Regions from separate parts of the Homo sapiens genome. Here region 1 is linked to region 2. Evidence: fine-mapped expression QTL. Tissue or cell type: whole blood. Region 2 holds a variant in brackets; the other region holds the start of a gene. All regions are shown on one strand. Distances are from middle to middle.

The links. PIP is the estimated chance that this variant, and not a neighbour inherited with it, causes the effect.
Region 1: RAPGEF1 starts here. The variant in region 2 is fine-mapped to the expression of RAPGEF1 in whole blood (TOPMed, PIP above 0.99).

Annotation. Positions count from the first base shown.
Region 1 is chr9:131,735,141-131,743,223 of GRCh38, forward strand. It overlaps RAPGEF1 (Rap guanine nucleotide exchange factor 1), which reads right to left and starts at 4,936. Exons shown (of 27, transcript NM_001377935.1): 1 at 4,630-4,936. The coding sequence starts at 4,690. RefSeq lists enhancers at 1-85, 382-676 and silencers at 382-676, 4,320-4,649, 4,700-4,749, 4,900-5,159.
Region 2 is chr9:131,589,191-131,597,288 of GRCh38, forward strand. It overlaps RAPGEF1 (Rap guanine nucleotide exchange factor 1), which reads right to left. Exons shown (of 27, transcript NM_001377935.1): 17 at 7,108-7,183; 18 at 2,909-2,993; 19 at 696-788. Among named protein-coding and RNA genes, the nearest start is that of PRRT1B, 48 kb to the left of the region's middle. RefSeq lists an enhancer at 160-659. The variant A/T (reference allele first, on the strand shown) is at 3,814.

The sequences.
Region 1 (8,083 bases), 150 kb after region 2:
ACAAGAACAACTCCAGGCCCTCAGGAGGTTGCTCCGTGAGGCAGGCGATGAGTGAAGCCACTGAAGGAGGGAAGAAAGGAATGAGTGACTGAAACTGACACATGCAGTCCAAGGACCTTCTTCCCTTCAGCTGAGGAGGCCTTGGTCTGCTCCCACCCCAGGAGACTGGTCCCCTACCCCACTGCCTGTGCCCAGCTAAGTGGACCCATCCTCCGCCTCTCACCTTAAGTCCCATTTTGTCACAGGAGCACAGGAGTTTCCTGACCATCCCTCCCCACTGCAAGTCTGATCTCTTGCCACCTTCCTGCTCACCCTGTGACACACAGAGGATGCCTGTATTCAGGGCAGGCAGCACGACATCTGCTGAGTTCACCACTGAGTCCCCAGAGCCTTGTACGGAGCCTGATGGAGCCGGTGCTCAATCCCTGATGAATGAGGGATGGAGTAATGAGTCAATGAAGGGATGGGGCAAAGGTTTCAAAGTCCAGACAAAAACAAACAAACATGAATCATTTCTCCGAGGAGGGGATGCAAACGCAAATGTCAAAAGTCCAAGTGGGCCGTCGGAGGTGTGGCTGGCTGTGGGAGTGGTGAGGGGCTCTGTGGGAGTGTCCGCCACCTGACTCCTGCCCATAGCTGCCTTGTAGGCAGGAACAAGCGCTCAGAGTTACCAGAGATTCTCATTTTTCAAGGAAATCAGGAACCAGGCTTTTGAGATTTTTGAGTGACTTCCTGATTTTTCAATATTGACCATCAATTCTTTTGTTTTTTTCCTCAAGAACACGTGCGGATCCAACCCAACATATCTGTGGACTGAATCCAGCCCGCAGCTGCCAGTCTGTGCTTAAGCTCCAAAAACATGACGGTATCAACTCTCCTCGCTCAATGTCTTTATTGGAAGATATATGAGCAAAAAGAACCACAGTAACTGCTTGCACAACCAGAACCATGTTCATTTGTTCTCCAAAGCAGCCTCTAAACAGCTGCATACATCTCCCATCAGTCTTCCAGAACAAATCCCTCTGAGCTCCTAGGGAAGAGCCTCTTCTCCTCTGCAGGCCTGCCCACAAGCTCACCCTGGGAGCTCCCTAATCTGTCCAGCTCTCTTCTACTCCCTACCTCCTCGTCATCTCTAGAAGCACTGTAGAGTTTAGAAAGCCTCCCCTGCATCCCAGCTTGTTCCTGGCCCTCCAAATTCAACCTTTCTCCACCAGGCCTCACTTGACAGGCCCCCACCAGCCCAGCAAGTTGTCCCTGTGCCACCCTCTGGCCCAGACTGTCTTGATTCCCCATGGCACTTGGGACCCCCAAATGTGAGGCCTATGACCTTGTGTATTCTCTGAGGATATACATAGGTATGGATGAACCCCTCAAGGCCCTGCCCCAGCCAGGCACTGCTGCATGAGAAAGAAAATGTCCCAAAGAACAGCAATGACTCAAAAGATCTCCCCCAGGGGTTAAGGAGAGTCCTGCACACCAAGGAGGTATCAGGCAATGCAAGGGGGCGGGATGAGGAACAGGCCAGAGCTGCACACTATGCGGGATGTGAAGGGGTTTCCTGTTTACCCAAAAAACCCTGGATGCCTTAAGCACTGAGAACTAAAAACGCTGGTTCTTCTACTTTCAGGGAGAGGAGATTATGAACATATTTAAGCAACGTTTCTGTTGCTTTGAGATAACAAAACAGCAAAACTCCAATCACAACAATTGTTTGCCTGGTGTCAGGCTCTGCCACCACTTCACCTAAGGGCCTCTCCTCTGAATCAAATACTCCTCTGGAGACTGAATAGTGGGAAGTCCATTAAAAAAACTCCAACAGAAATCTAACAAAATGTCGTCTAAATGCAAAGGGAAGTTCACTGAGAATAGCCAGCAGAGACCACCAGGAAAGGTCATCCTCACTCCAGGCGCGCCCCAGTCTTCCTTGGCAGTTGTAATCTTTCACTATGATTCCTATGAACTGCAGCAAAAGACCTTCTGCAAGGAGGCTGGACTTCCAGCCAGCTCCACATCTGCAATCCCCAATCTGCAGGCGAGGTCCTGACCCTGGTCTTGCCAATCTCAGAACTCTTACTTTTTCTGCTTCTCACAAAATGCATCTTCCTCCCACACTTTCCGCAGCTCCTGGTCAGCCCCTTCCCCTCTCTCCTCTTTCTCCCTGTCTCCACCAGGTATATATCTCAGCCCTCTCTTCAGAGCCTAGCACAAACACTGTCCCCTCCAGTGTCTTCCTCATTCCCGCACTCATGACACCCCTCTCTCACCTGTGTCCATGGCAGCACGGTCGCTCGGTCTGGCAGCCTGGGTAGCTTAGAAACTGTGCTAGGTTAGACAAGCTTCTCTGGGAGCAGGCACTTTCATCTACAACCCCCTAGCAGAAGGCGGTGCCCAGAAAAGGCCCAAGGACAAACTATGCTGAAATGAACTGGCCTCAGGTCTTTCTCCCAAATAGCAGAGAACTCAAATGAAGAGTCATTTCATTCCCAGCGGTTTGGGCAGCTCATGGGATGACAGGCAACTTTTTCCTTTTTTTAAAAAAAGAGGCCCAGCGCGGTGGCTCACGCATGTAATCCCAACACTTTGGGAGGCCGAGGTGGGCGGATCACGAGGTCAGGAGATCGAGACCATATTGGCTAACACGGTGAAACCCTGTCTCTACTAAAAATACAAAAAAATTTGCCAGGCGTGGTGGCAGGCGCCTGCAGTCCCAGCTACTCGGGAGGCTGAGGCAGGAGAATGGCGTGAACCCAGGAGGAGGCGGAGCTTGCAGTGAGCCGAGATCGCACCACTGCACTCCAGCCTGGGCAACAGAGCAAGACTCCGTCTCAAAAAAAAAAAAAAAAATTTTTTTTAAAGTAGCAATGAGGTCTCGCCATTTTGCCCAGGCTTGTTTCAAACTCCTGGGCTCAAGTGATCCTCCTGCCTTGGCCTTCCAAAATGCAGGGATTACAGGCGTGAGCCACTGTACCTGGCTGACAGATGATTTCCAATCCGGTTCATTTTACTTTTCTGTGATTTCCAAGTTTTGACAATGAACATAGAATATTCTTATATTATAAAGATATAAAACATAATATAATCTTATATTAGATATAAAAAGATATAATATAATCTTATATATTATAAAGTTCTTATAAAAGAACTCAGTGAATGTTCTTTTTAAAATAAATTATCCAAGTTTCCCAACAGTACCGTTCTGACAAGACACTATACAAGAAGTTCCTGAGAAATGCTGCACAGATGAACCCAAGTTATTTCTGGAGCAGCAGGTGTACAGGATGGCGACTCATGGTCACTCGGCAAGGCTGTGGGGGCTCAAATTCAGTGAGAAAAATACTCAAGAAATGGCACCTGAACCCAAGCGCCCTGCCCCTGAGAAAAGCACCCTGGCTTCTGGTCAGAGGGCCAGGAATGAATATACTAGGGGCCTGCCGCCCTCTTGCTGTCTGGACAGCCGGAACTCACTGAACCTCTCTGAGCCTGTAAAACTGGGACCATATTCTTTCCCACAGACTAGCTTCAAAAATTTAAGAAGCAATGCATTTTAGGTGCTAAGAGTTAGATATATAGTAAACCCTCAATAAAGCCTACAAAAATGTCCTTCTGTGCTTCAACCACAGCCTGCAAAAGTCATATTGCCTTGTGGGTCCGCTGCAGGGGTGCACCCCACAGAAGTATCCCAGATTCAACCCAGGAAACATAAGCAACTTCCACAATCAAAGCCACAGACCTCCTTTGCAGCTCCCTAAAAATCTGCTTTCCCTCATTCAGCCGCCAAGCTAACCTGCTACCGGGGTTATGACCACAGGGCATGCTCCCAGTACAGGAGCCCAGGAGCACCCGCCCACTTCACCTTAGACCCAAGAATTCGCATTTGCCCTGCAAGGTGCTGCAGGCTAATAAAGCCTGGGGCCCCACAGGCTCGACAGTCATTGAATCTTTGGAGACTCTATTTCCAGGACAGGCAAACCCAGGGACTCGGAAGGTAACTCCCCCAGATTTCTAGGAACACACAAAGAGACGAGGTCTGCATCAAGATTTACCATCTACTCCAACCCACCGGTCCCCCACCTGCCCTCCTTGCAGAGCTGAGCTTGATCGGGGTGGGGAGGGGAAACTTGACTACCTCCTCAAAATACCCCCACTCATCCAGCCTGCTTCCTTTGAAGCAACCGAAGTGGACGCTTCTCGTTAAACTCGAAGCTCGTTAGAAATGACACATTTTACAGCTCAGCTGGGTTCACCCTCCTAGCGCCGAGCCCAGGCCGGGCACCGATCGCTGCAGCCGCAGCAGCACGCGGCCCGGGCTGTTCTTCCCCTGCTTGGGGCTCGAGCCATTTTCGGAAGTTCCCGGGGACCGCGGAGCGGCTAGCGCGCCCGGCCCCGGGTTGCAGGGGCCCCGCCCGGCCCGGCCCCTGGCGCCCCCGCAGCGGCCGCTTCCCCCCGCGCCCGGCAGGCAATGGGCCTGGAGGAGAAGCTGCCAGGCGCCCCGGCGAGGCCTCGGTGGCTTCACCCCGCCCCGGCGCACGGAGGGCCGCACATCCCGGGCGACCCGCGCTCGGCCCGGGGAGCGGCGGAGCCCCAGGGCCGGGCCCGGCCGGAGGGAGCCGCCCCACGCCCGCGCCTCACCTGCTTTCTCGATCTTGCCGGACATTTCCGGGCTGCGCCGGAGGCCGAGGCCGCCGCTCATCGGGCCCGGGCCGGGCCGCCGCGGGGCGACAGGGGCGGCGCGCCCGCCGCTCGCCTCGGCCCTGGCTCGCCACGCCTCAGACCCGCGCCGGCATGGCGGGCTCCGCGCGGCCGCGGCCCTGCGCTCGGCGACCGCGCTCCAGCCCGCCCGGGCCCAGCCGCTCCCGCCGCGCCCGCCGCCGCCGCTCCGCCTCCCGCGCGCCCGCCGCCGCTCCCCCGGCCCGCGAGCCGGCCGCAGCGCAGCGACGCCGCCCGCCCGCCCGCCGGGCCTCGGCCGCGGCCACGGCCACAGCGCCACCTGCCGGGCGCCCGCCGCGCCGCCACAGCGCCCCCTGTGGGCCCGGAGCCGCCCGAGCCTCCCGCGCGACGCGCGAGACGCAGCGCCCCCTGCCGAGCCGGAGTCCCCACGCCGGGGCCTGGGGCCTGGGGTGTGGGGCCGACCCCGCCTGGGACTCCGCATTCCTCTGCTGTGGGACCAGAGTCACCAGCTCCAGACCTGGGACTGACAGCTCCAACCCAGGGTCCTCGGTTGCCCAAGAGCCTGGCCTGCCCCCTCACCAGAGACACAGAGAACCCTCCTGGGTCAGATTTTCCACCCCAGGACGTGGAACTGACGCCCACCCCACCCTAGCATCATCCCGGACCCAGCATCCCCTGTGGGCCAGAGGCTCCACACCAGGGCCTAGAACTCACTCTCACCAGGACTCAACAAGCTCTGCTGGCTGGGAGCCTGTCCTGACCTCCCCCAAACCAGAGATGCAGCACCCCCTTTTTTGTTTTGTTTTTTGTTTTTGAGACCGAGTCTCACTTTGTCGCCAGGCTGGAGAGCAGTGGCGCGATCTCGACTCACTGCAACCTCTGCCTGCCGGGTTCAAGCAATTCTCCTGCCTCAGCCTCCTGAGTAGCTGGGATTACAGGCACATGCCACCATGCCCAGCTAATTTTTGTATTTTTAGTAGAAACGGGGTTTCGCCATGTTGGCCAGGCTGGTCTCGATCTTCTGACCTCATGATCCACCCACCTTGGCCTCCCAAAGTGCTGGGATTACAGGTGTGAACCACTGCACCCTGCCCGCACCCCCTTCTTAATTGGAGACCCCACACCAGGGCCTGGGAGTGGCCTCATAGCACCTCCTGCCAGCCCAGAGGCTCCAGCCGGGGAATGAGTCCACTCTGGCATGAAAGCCCTCTGCTGGCCCAAGGTCTATGCCAAGGCGGAGGATTCATTCTCCACCCCAGCCCTGCATGTGGGACTCAGTCACCCTGCCAGCGAGAGCCACCTGTCCCGGGCTGGGGTTGGCCCTACTCAGGCCTAAATGTCCCCTGAGGCCTAGAGCCTCCATGCTGGCCTGGGCCCAACTCCCTCAGGGACACAGCACACCCTGCCTGCCCTGCTTATTTGACATCCAGAAGGGCACCCTGGGGCTCAGCTGTGGAACTTTTCTAGTGTGGAAATGAGTTCATTAAAAGTCGTGGCTGGGCACGGTGGCTCACGCCTGTAATCCCAGCACTTTGGGAGGCCGAGGCAGGTGGATCACGAGGTCAAGAGATTGAGACCATCCTGGCCAACATGGTGAAACCCCATCTCTACTAAAAATACAAAAATTAGGTGGGCATGGTGGCACACGCCTGTAGTCCCAGCTACTTGGGAGGCTGAGGCAGGAGAATCTCTTGAACCCAGGACATGGAGGTTGCAGTGAACCGAGATCATGCCACTGTACTCCAGCCTGGTGGCTCCAGAGCGAGACTCCGTCTCAAAAAAAAAAAAAAAGTCGTGGTTGGGCACAGTGGCTCACGGCTGCAATCACAGCACTTTGGGAGGCTGAGGTGGGTGGATGACTTGAGCCCAGGGGTTCGAGACCAGCCTGGGCAATGTGTGAAACTCCGTCTCTACTAAAAATACAAAAATTAGCCAGGCACGGCGGCACCTGCCTGTAGTCCCAGTTACTTGAGAGGCTGATGAGGGAGAATCACTTGAGCCCTGGAGGCAGAGGTTTCAGGGAGTCATGATTGCACCACTGCACTCCAGCCTGAGTGACAGAGGAAGACCCTGGCTAAAAAAAAAAAAAAAAAAAAGGAAAAAAAAAGTCATTTAAGAATCAAAGGATCTGCTAAGTCTAAGCACTATTTCGGGTTCTGTGGGCCCTACAAAAGTGGGCACAATTGGTGCTTCCCTCCAAAGAGTTCACAACTTAGCTGGGAAGTCAAAGTTAAATCCTATAATACAAGTAGTAAATAACAACAAATTAGTAACGCAAGTGATGTTCCAATGTGGGGCAATTCTGCTGCCTGCTTCCTGTTGTTAGTCTAAGATGGAATACAAAGAAGTAGCACGCACCACCTGGGCTAGTTTTCCCTCCTGTTTCCCCCAAAATAAGTAAATTAAATAACCTAGTGATGGGGACAGGATTTGGGGGAGGTGCAGGGAGGAGGAAAAACTGCTAATGTTGTGAGAGATTCTTATTCCCATCTCCCTGGACAGTCTAAAGGGTCACCGATTCCACAACTAAGAGCTAGTCAGGCCGGGTGTGGTGGCTCACACCTGTAATCCCAGCACTTTGGGAGGCCGAGGTGGGTAGATCACCTGAGTTCAGGAGTTCGAGACCAGCCTGGCCAACATGGTGAAACCCCATCTCTACTAAAAATACAAAAAATAGCCGGGCGTGGTGGTGCGCGCTGGTAGTCCCAGCTACTCAGGAGGCTGAGGCACGAGAATCACTTGAACCTGGGAGGCAGAGGTTGCAGGGAGCCAAGATCGCGCCACTGCACTCCAGCCTGGGTGACAGAGCGAGACTCCCTCTTTAAAAAAAAAAAAAAGGAGATGGTCATAGATGGCAGCCAAATTTCCCATCATCATTTCATCAGTTGCAGCCCTCTAGAGGTCAAAGGCAAATCCAAAGATTGACAAATTCATTTCCCTCTTCCACCTGATGAATGGATGCTCTGATCCAGGGTGGCCCTGTTCAGCCCTCTTGGCAGATGCCTTACCAGGCAAAACTGGCCCCTGGTCCCAGGCCCAACCCCAAAACACACTCAATGCTGCCCCCAACCCTTCTAGGCTTCTGAGCTGAGAAGAGCCGATATTTTAAATCCAAAATCCTGGTTGAAAAGTAGAAAACTAGACTGCATGGATACTAGGTGCAGTCAGGGGTTTGTGAGAACACAAATATATTTAATAAATTATGACATATCCAATGACAAAAGATTTGCAAACAACAAAGTACTTTGCAAATGGACATTATGGTAAATCAGGGTCACAGAACTTACTTAATAAAGGCTATTCATCAAAGATGTTTATAACTATAGTAGAACACACACAAGGTAATGAAGCAAACGGATTCCCAAAGCCCAGTTCTGGCTGACTTGGAACCTTCTCATGAGCTGCTCCTGCTGTC
Region 2 (8,098 bases):
CACACACTCAACAGCCATCTGTTGGCGCTGGACAAGCGCCAGTGACTGTGCTGGGGCCTGGGCTGCAGGGACAAGTCCTACACGAATCCCGCCCTGGGGAGCTGCTGCTCCCATTGGGCAATGAGACACCAAGACTTCCCGGCCTCTCAGACTAGATGCTCCCCAACTTGCCCTGCTGAGCACTGTCCACACGTGGCCATTTCCCAGCCGCACAGCCACTTACCATGGTCATCTCCCCCAGCAGGAGGAAGGCAGTCCGCCTGATGGAGATTTGTTAGCGGAACGGATATGGCCAAGTGCCATGCTGTCAGATGGCCAGCCATGGAAACACTGAGGAGCGAGGGAGAGGTGGCCTCTCCCATTCCAGCCTCCACACAGCCTCCACCATGGCTGGCGGCTGAGAGCACGGCCTGCTGGAGACTGGACCTAAGATACCATGGGAGCAGGTGCGTTGGGCGGGTTCTCTCCTGAGGGTCCAGGAGGGACCTCATGAGGAAATCCAGGGCCTGGGTGCAGGGTGGAGAGACACCTCACCCATCTCACCCTGGTCTATCGGGCACAGGCCATTCTCTCAAAGGACCAAGATAGAGCAGGCAAGAGCCAGCTCTGCCCAGAGCCGATGGGCAGGAGAAGCAGGTGGAATGGAGCCTTTGCCTCCCCACTGGCCCCCAGGACCCCAAGGGTGAAGCACTCACCAGAGCTCATCCACCACCCGTACCAGCACGAAGAACGTGTTCTTGCTGACGCGCTTCTTGAATGTGTCGGCAAAGGGAGAGAATTTCTCATATGTGGAGCACGGGTTAAAGAAATAGCCATGTGGTCGGCTGAGGGTGGTGGAGTGGAGGACTGACTCCTGGTGACCACTCACTGAGCGCTCACAATGTGCCCATCTTCCTGCATGTAAAGCACTGGCATCCAGAAACGAGGGCACGGGACTAGCGCAGTGGAACAACTGCAAAGCCAGGATTTGAGCACAGGCGTCTGTCCCCAGGGATGCCCCCGGCTGCTGCCCTCTCCTCCCTGCCACGCCATCTCCGCTGCACTGTCCAGACCCGCCTTTCCATCGGGTTCACCCCGAGGTGCCCATGAGATTACAGACACGTAGAGAGTGCCTTGCTGAACTTTAGGTAGAGAACGGTGGGCCCAAACCAAACACCCTCCAAACCCCAGGTCCCTAGGCAGGTGTGTAGGCCAGAAGTATCTCCCTCCAGTCTTTCTGTGAGTTTCCATCCTGAGGCTGCCTCCCTGGGCTCTGCAAGGGAACTCTCACCTCCGTGACACCGGGCCGGGTCTCTCTTCCCAGAGCTGCAGCACGCTCCACATTGGCTCCCTGTCTCCAGGGCAGCACTTCAAGCACCCGATCAGCTCTAGCTCATGCCCTGAGGTCGGGCTCTGCTTTGTGGTCAGGGTTTCCTGCCCGGCTGTTGTGCTCGCCATCGACTCCCCAGATCTCTCTGACACCCTCCTGCCTGCTCTCTAGTGATCCACGACCTTCCAAGTCATGGGGCTCAGGACAGAGCAACGTACCAGGGACTGTGTCTTGGCCCACAGCACAGGGGTCGCCAGCCAACCAGGCCCAGACCTTGATGCTGCAATATTTCCATGATGGCTGAGCCAGGCAGAGGCTGAGAGCCTGGGCGCAGGCAGCAGGGGGCAAGCAGCGTGTGGCTGCTCTCCCACCAAGCAGCCACATGGGTCAGGTCCTTCATGTCTCTGGGCCTCGGTTTCCTCAATTACACAATAGGGAGTTATAGAGCAGTGGCCCCATGTATAATATGGTAATTTTATACACACCCACACACACATATTAAAAAATGGTCATAGAGCTAGGGCTAGGTGAAAGCACAGGTGTAAAGCACATCTCGCCTGACCAGCAAGTCCTTGACACGTGTGAGTGACAGCCATTCACTGAGTCAGGCCTGTGAGCAGGTGCTCTGAGTAACAGAACTTGCCGGGGACCCGAGGCTCCGCCAATGGAGGATGTCCACGTCTGTCTTGATAGATCAGGGATTCTAAAGGTCAACACGAGGGGAGAATAGGAGGCCAGGAGGTCTGCAGGAGGCCCTGAGTGGAGCAGTGAAGGCTCAGGGCACACAGGAAGGAGCGGGGGCGCGGGTGGACTCAGGACTTCCTACCCCAGGTGGTGGTGGCTGCCCAGCAGATGGCAGCCGTGGGCTATGTGCAAAGAGGTGGCTGAGGAGCAGCTGACCCAGGCTACCCTCCTAGAGCAGCAGCTGCAGGTCAGCCTCTTAGGATGGGCAGGTTTGGACTTGAAGAGGCAATGGGTCACACAAGTGGGTCCTTCCAAACCCCTGGGGTCCTCCTCAGCCACTACTGCAGAGGGTGACATTTACTGAGGGTGGGCCCATGGGGTAGATCTGGGGACAGGAGCCCATTCCAGTTGTGGATGTGGCAGTCGCAGGGTCCGCTCCAGGGAAGGTGACTGTGCTGACCCCTGAGCTGTCTATTTGGGTCTTGGTATCCTTCGTGCCCAACGCCCTGGGGCTCAGCTCTGAGAAGCTGCCGGAGCCGACCATGAGGGTCTCTCAGAGGCGTCTGCAGGACCGGCACACTTACCCCTCCCAGTCTGGGGCATGTCTAATTCGTTTTTAGAATCATCCAATGACCACAACTGCCACCAGACACACATTCCCAGACTATGTTCCAGCCTCTTCACATCATTTCACTCGGCCCTTTTAGAGATGAGGAACTTGCCTGAGCTCAAAGCTGGAATGCGGGAGGGTAGAGGTGGGAACCTCGGTCCATGGGGCTCCTGTGTCCCTACTTCAATCACACTGCCACCCAATATGCTGCTCGGCTTCCCCCACGAGGACTGAAGGGCAAGAGGGTCCCTCTCTCTCCAAAATGCCCATGGTGCAGGGGCCCTGGGTCAGGAAGGAAAGGATATCTGTACTGCAGCTTCTTGATGAGCTCCTCTGGGGAGATGAAGGTCCTGTAGGTGGTCAGGAATGCCTCGCAGTACAACACCAAATCTAGAGGGAAAAAACAATGCAAACTGCTTGTCTGGGTGCAGAGTGCTGGGGGGTGGTAGCCAGGGTGGATTTGAGTCCTTGCTCTGAGAGAGGCAGGGGAGATGGCACGGGGAGTGGGATGGGCGAGGGAGCCGAGGGCTTGGGAACCCCCTCTGGTGTCTCCGCCTGCATGTCCCAGAGAAGTCACACGTCCTCTCTGTCCATCTCTCAAAGGAAACGGCAGATCAGAGAGGGGAAACAGGAAAGGGTTTTATCTCATGGGCACTTTCTACCGATGATGGTGCTGCCTGGAGAACCGTGCTGTGGGAGCTGAGGCCAACTCTGGTCCCAGCGGAAAAGGGCACTTAGGCTGACGAGTGACGCCTGCCCTAGGCATCAAAACCCGGTGGCATGCCTGTTCCAGGTAGGAGCCAGCCCTGGATTAGACTCTGAGAGGCTCTGCCTGTCCTAAGGCTTTATGCTTCAGAGGGTCTCAGCCATCATGGGAACAAAGAAAATCGTCTGTTCAAACCCGTCAGCAGGATCCTGAAATGAAACCCTAGGCTTTACTTTTATTTTTAAATTTTTATTATGATTATTATTTTCGAGACAGGGTCTCACTCTATCACTCAGGCTGGAGTGCAGTGGTGCGATCTTGGTTCACTGCCACCTCTGCCTCCTGGGTTCAAGTGATTCTCCTGCCTCAAGCCTCCCGAGTAGCTGGGACCACAGGCACGCGCCACTACGCCTGGCTGATTTTAATACAGACAAGGTTTCACCATGTTGGCCAGGCTAGTCTCAAACTCTTGGCCTCAAGTGATTCACTCAGCTTGGCCTCCCA[A/T]AGTGCTGGGATTACAGGCGTGAGCCACCGTGCCTGGTCAGTACTTTTAGATGGTAGGGTCCAATCAGAAAAATCCGGGGAAATTCCACGTTTTGGGTCCTAAGGGATAGGCTGAAGAGGCACGGCTTGGGCCGGGTACCAAGGAGAGGCATGGTGCCAGCCACTGGGCAGGTGTGGGCTGGCAGCTCCAGCTTACCCCTCACCTCTCCATGCCTGCCTCCTCTTAGAGGGGGCTGGTACCAGTCAGGGACTCCCAGACTTTCCAGAATTACAACAGCCCTATTTATTTGCTGTGGTGACACCTTCTCAACTGTGCTGTCTCTGATATTACAGAATGAAGTGGAATTTTAAAATGTAGGACACTGCCTGAGCCAACGGGTGGCCAGACTCACTCCCTGCAGCCACCCCCCGTGCCTGCTGAGGTGTGAGGCCCAAGGAGGCTCCGCAGCTGTGCTTCTCACTGTGAGGCTGGGTGCAAACACGCACTGCTTAAATCTTGTGCTCTGGACATAGACCACCTGCTCCCACCTTCTCCCTCATTCCCGAGCTGCTGGGTAGAGGAATCTCGAGGAACCCACATCTCCAGCTGAGTCATGCTGGCTTGGCTCCTGCCCCCACCCTTGCCCCATCCCCTCTTGCATCAAACGAGAGGAAAACCCACGCCTGCTCTTGCACTGGGGGCTGCGTGGGGTGGGGCTGGCAGGTGAAGGAGGCTCCGGGCTGGGAATCACAGCAGGGCCCATCCGCACTGTGCTCAGGCTCATTCCTCGGCCCCCACACCCACCCAGTTCACTGTCAAGCTTGGATTTTTGTTCAAAGAGTTTGGGGAAGGAAGCAGAGATGGCACCAGCATAGACCCATACCTGCTTCTGGAAGAAGGGGCCCAAGTCAACTGGCCTTTGCGGGTGCATCATTGCCAGTAGCCATGACAACTTCGTGGGACTCGCTGGTGAGCACTGGGCCATGCCTTGAACATATGCCACATCCTTCAATGCCCAGAGCAATCCCACAAGGACAGAGTCCTGTTACCCTACCGAGAGAGGAGGAGCCCAGGCACGAGGCCACACCACCCGCAAGCAATGTGGCGGGGTCGGCGCCCATGTCTGCCCAATTCCAGAGCCCTCCCCCATCTGCTGTGCCCTGGATTATGGCAGATGGGACAGCGCCTGGCTTCTGGGACGGGCAGTGCTGTGCCACCCCTCTAGAGATCACAGGACTCTCGATGCGGTCCTGAGCACTCTGTGCGCCCTGGCTCACCTGGTCTTTGAGACAGCCCTAAAAGGCCCCGAAATTGTCCCTCATTTTCCTCCTAAGGAATCGGAAGCTCCGGGGCTAAGTGACAGGCTTGGCACACAGTTGTCAAGGGATAGACAGGATCTAAGCTGAGGCCTGAGGCCAAGGCTGACCTGACCTTCTCCCATGCAGGTCCTGACACCTGAGAGCAGAGCCGTGCAACCACAAAGCACCCCCACACGGCCTCTCCCTGCCAAGCCCTGCTTGGCAGGCTGGGCTCCACGGGCCTGAGCCACGGGGCTCCCAGCTGCTCGTGATGCTGGTGCAGTCTCTGGCTTGCAGGATGCACCTGCCCAAGGAGCTTGCTTTGTTACCTGCCACAGGGTGCTTCACCCTCCCAGTGGAGCCATGGCTTCTGCCTCAGTAATACTTCCTACGTAAAACTTTGGTTCTGGGGAGCCTCCAACCCTTCTGCTAGTAAAATCAGGCAAAGCTCCCACCGGCACGGAGCGTCCTCTCAGCAGGTCCAGCCAGCAAAAGCCAGAAGCCTCTTGGCTGTCCTGTCTCAGGGACCCCTCCAGCCTTGGCCACAGCTGGCTGTACCCGACAGGACAGTGGAGTTCACCCTTTGGAGCCGAGGTCTGAAGCCAGCTCCCATTTCAGCCCCTCGCTGTGGACAAAAAGGAAATGAAAGTCGCTCCCATGCCTGGCTGAGTATGGAGCCCCCTATGTCAGGCAGGGAGGGGGATTCACTGCAGAGAAGCCAAGCAAGGGCTGCACTCGGCGCTCAGGATGCTGCTGATCACGCCCCCAGCACCGCTGACATGCGGGGCAGGTTTCACACTCCCTCACGTAATCCACACAACAACAGGCACCGTTCACCCCTTCAACAAGTGGAGTCGGCTCAGGCCGAGAAGCCCGGGGACTGCCCAGGGGCCCTCTGAGCCTGTCATGGCACAGCTGGGGCTAGGATGCAGCATCGCCAGGTCTGGGCCCTGCCCTGGTCAGAACAAACAAAGGGTGAGGGAACAGTGAAGGGGAGGGCGGAGCAGTGGCTGCGGTGAGTTTGTGGGAGCCATCTCTTCTTTTTCTCTAATTTTCTGCAATGTAAATATTTTTTAGTACTACTTCCATAATTCAGAAATTCCCCGAGTCACTCTGGGTCACATGTTTTGGGAAACGTGCTGAGGAAACACAGGGACAGAGTCCCTTACAGAAATGAAACGGGTTGGGCTAGGATTTCAAGGTGGGGGTGTTTTCATTCCCTCCACAATTTACTTCACCATTGCTCTGACATCATCTTTTAAATCATTTTTTTAAACGTAAAAAGAGAAGCAGCGTGTGGAGAGACTGGCCGGCCAGGTGGTGCTGGCCCCTTGAGGGCAGGCAGTGAAGGGTGCTGTGGCCATGCCCCATCAGGTCACTAGCACCTCCTTTCCAGAGCATGACTGGGAATGACTTTGCTAGCAGAGTCCACCCAACAAGACGTTTTAGGGATTAGGGGACGGTCCCTGCTTTTCCAGCCCTCTCAATCAGCACACTGAATGCGTGGTAGGGTGGGGCAGCTGTGTGCTGTGAAACTGAGGCCACTGCTACAGAATTGAAGGTTCCTGGACAGAACAAACCTTCAAGAATTTCCTCGTGGAGTATGTGAGTGAAGTCCGGTCTAATGGTCTGCAACAATAGAGTGACTCAGCAGTCAGGAAAGGAATCAAAAGGTACCTGCATGTTATCTTAAGTTTAGTACTACTGGGTGACATGCCATCACTCAAGGCGCTGTCTGTGGTGCGCTTAGTATGCGCTGAGCCCCTCAAGGACCCTGGAGGCCCTGGGGTCACTACCTTGTACCAGCGGAGGACAGATGCCACGCACGCCTGGAGTTGAACATGATCTACTTGTCTTCCAAGGTGGGCTCTCCCTGCTCTGACTCAGGCGCACCAGGACTGCTGATCAGACCTGCTCAGGGCTGTGGCTGCCAGGAGGGGACAGGATAGCGGTGGGAGGCCGAGTGGCACCCGGGGCAGGACCAGCCCCAATCTAGTGAGCTCACTGACACCCTACCTTTCCTGTCAGTCTCAGTAGCATGGACCAGTAAGATGTCCCCAGATCCTCCGCGGACGTCCGGCCCGTCATCACCCTGTAATGAACACAGCCAAGGAAGGTATGAGGCAGAGTATGCCCTTCAGAGAATCAGTTTAGGAAGAAACAGGCAGGAATGAGATGACAAAATGCCCTGCAACCCCAAGTCCCCTCTCCTTCTGTGCTCCTCGGCCCAGGAGCAGTGTGGCTGCGCTGCGAAGCCAGGGGTGCCCTCCAGACTCACCTTGTGCTTGGTGACAGGCACAAACTGGACTGTGTCTGGGAGCTGGATGGCCTGGGAGCTGCCCCGGCACCAAGGCACCAGGGCATGCCACTGTTTTGAGCACACAACTTGGGCCAGGGGACATAGCACCTTCCATCCTTCCTTGCTCACCAAACCACAAGTCAGAGGTGAGGTAGGACCCCCTGGGGGCAAGACAGTCCCCAGCCTTGCCCAGGATGCCTGTGGAGGCAGCAGGACTATTTCTAAGCATGTTCATGTTCCCCAAAACTGCAGCAAGCGGCCCTACATCTAAATCCGTCTCCCCAGGTGGAAGTAGAAGTTACTTGCATTGGCACAAGGTTCTTCTGTGGGGCCCTTCCTTAAAGGAGAGCAAAGCATTACAGACAGAAATATTCAATGACTTCTGACGCTGCACACCTGCCACCAACCCACCTGCCTCTTAAGAAGCAAGTCTTGCTTCCATGTGGGCAAACAGAGGCCACCCAGCGTAGAGCCAAAAAGAGCTGTGACTAGGGCCAGGAACAGAGGTCCAGGACAACCCCCCAGGCCTGTTTCTGCCCCTGGCCCTCAATGCTCCTTGCTCTGTAACGCTGGAGGGACGGAACCAGCCCTCTCAGCTGCGGTACACACTCCGGGACTAGCCCACCTTTTTATTTTTAGGCTTTGGTATTTTACCTCCTGACTCCAGAGGCCTGAGATTGTCTTGGGTTTACCTCTAGGAGTAGGAAC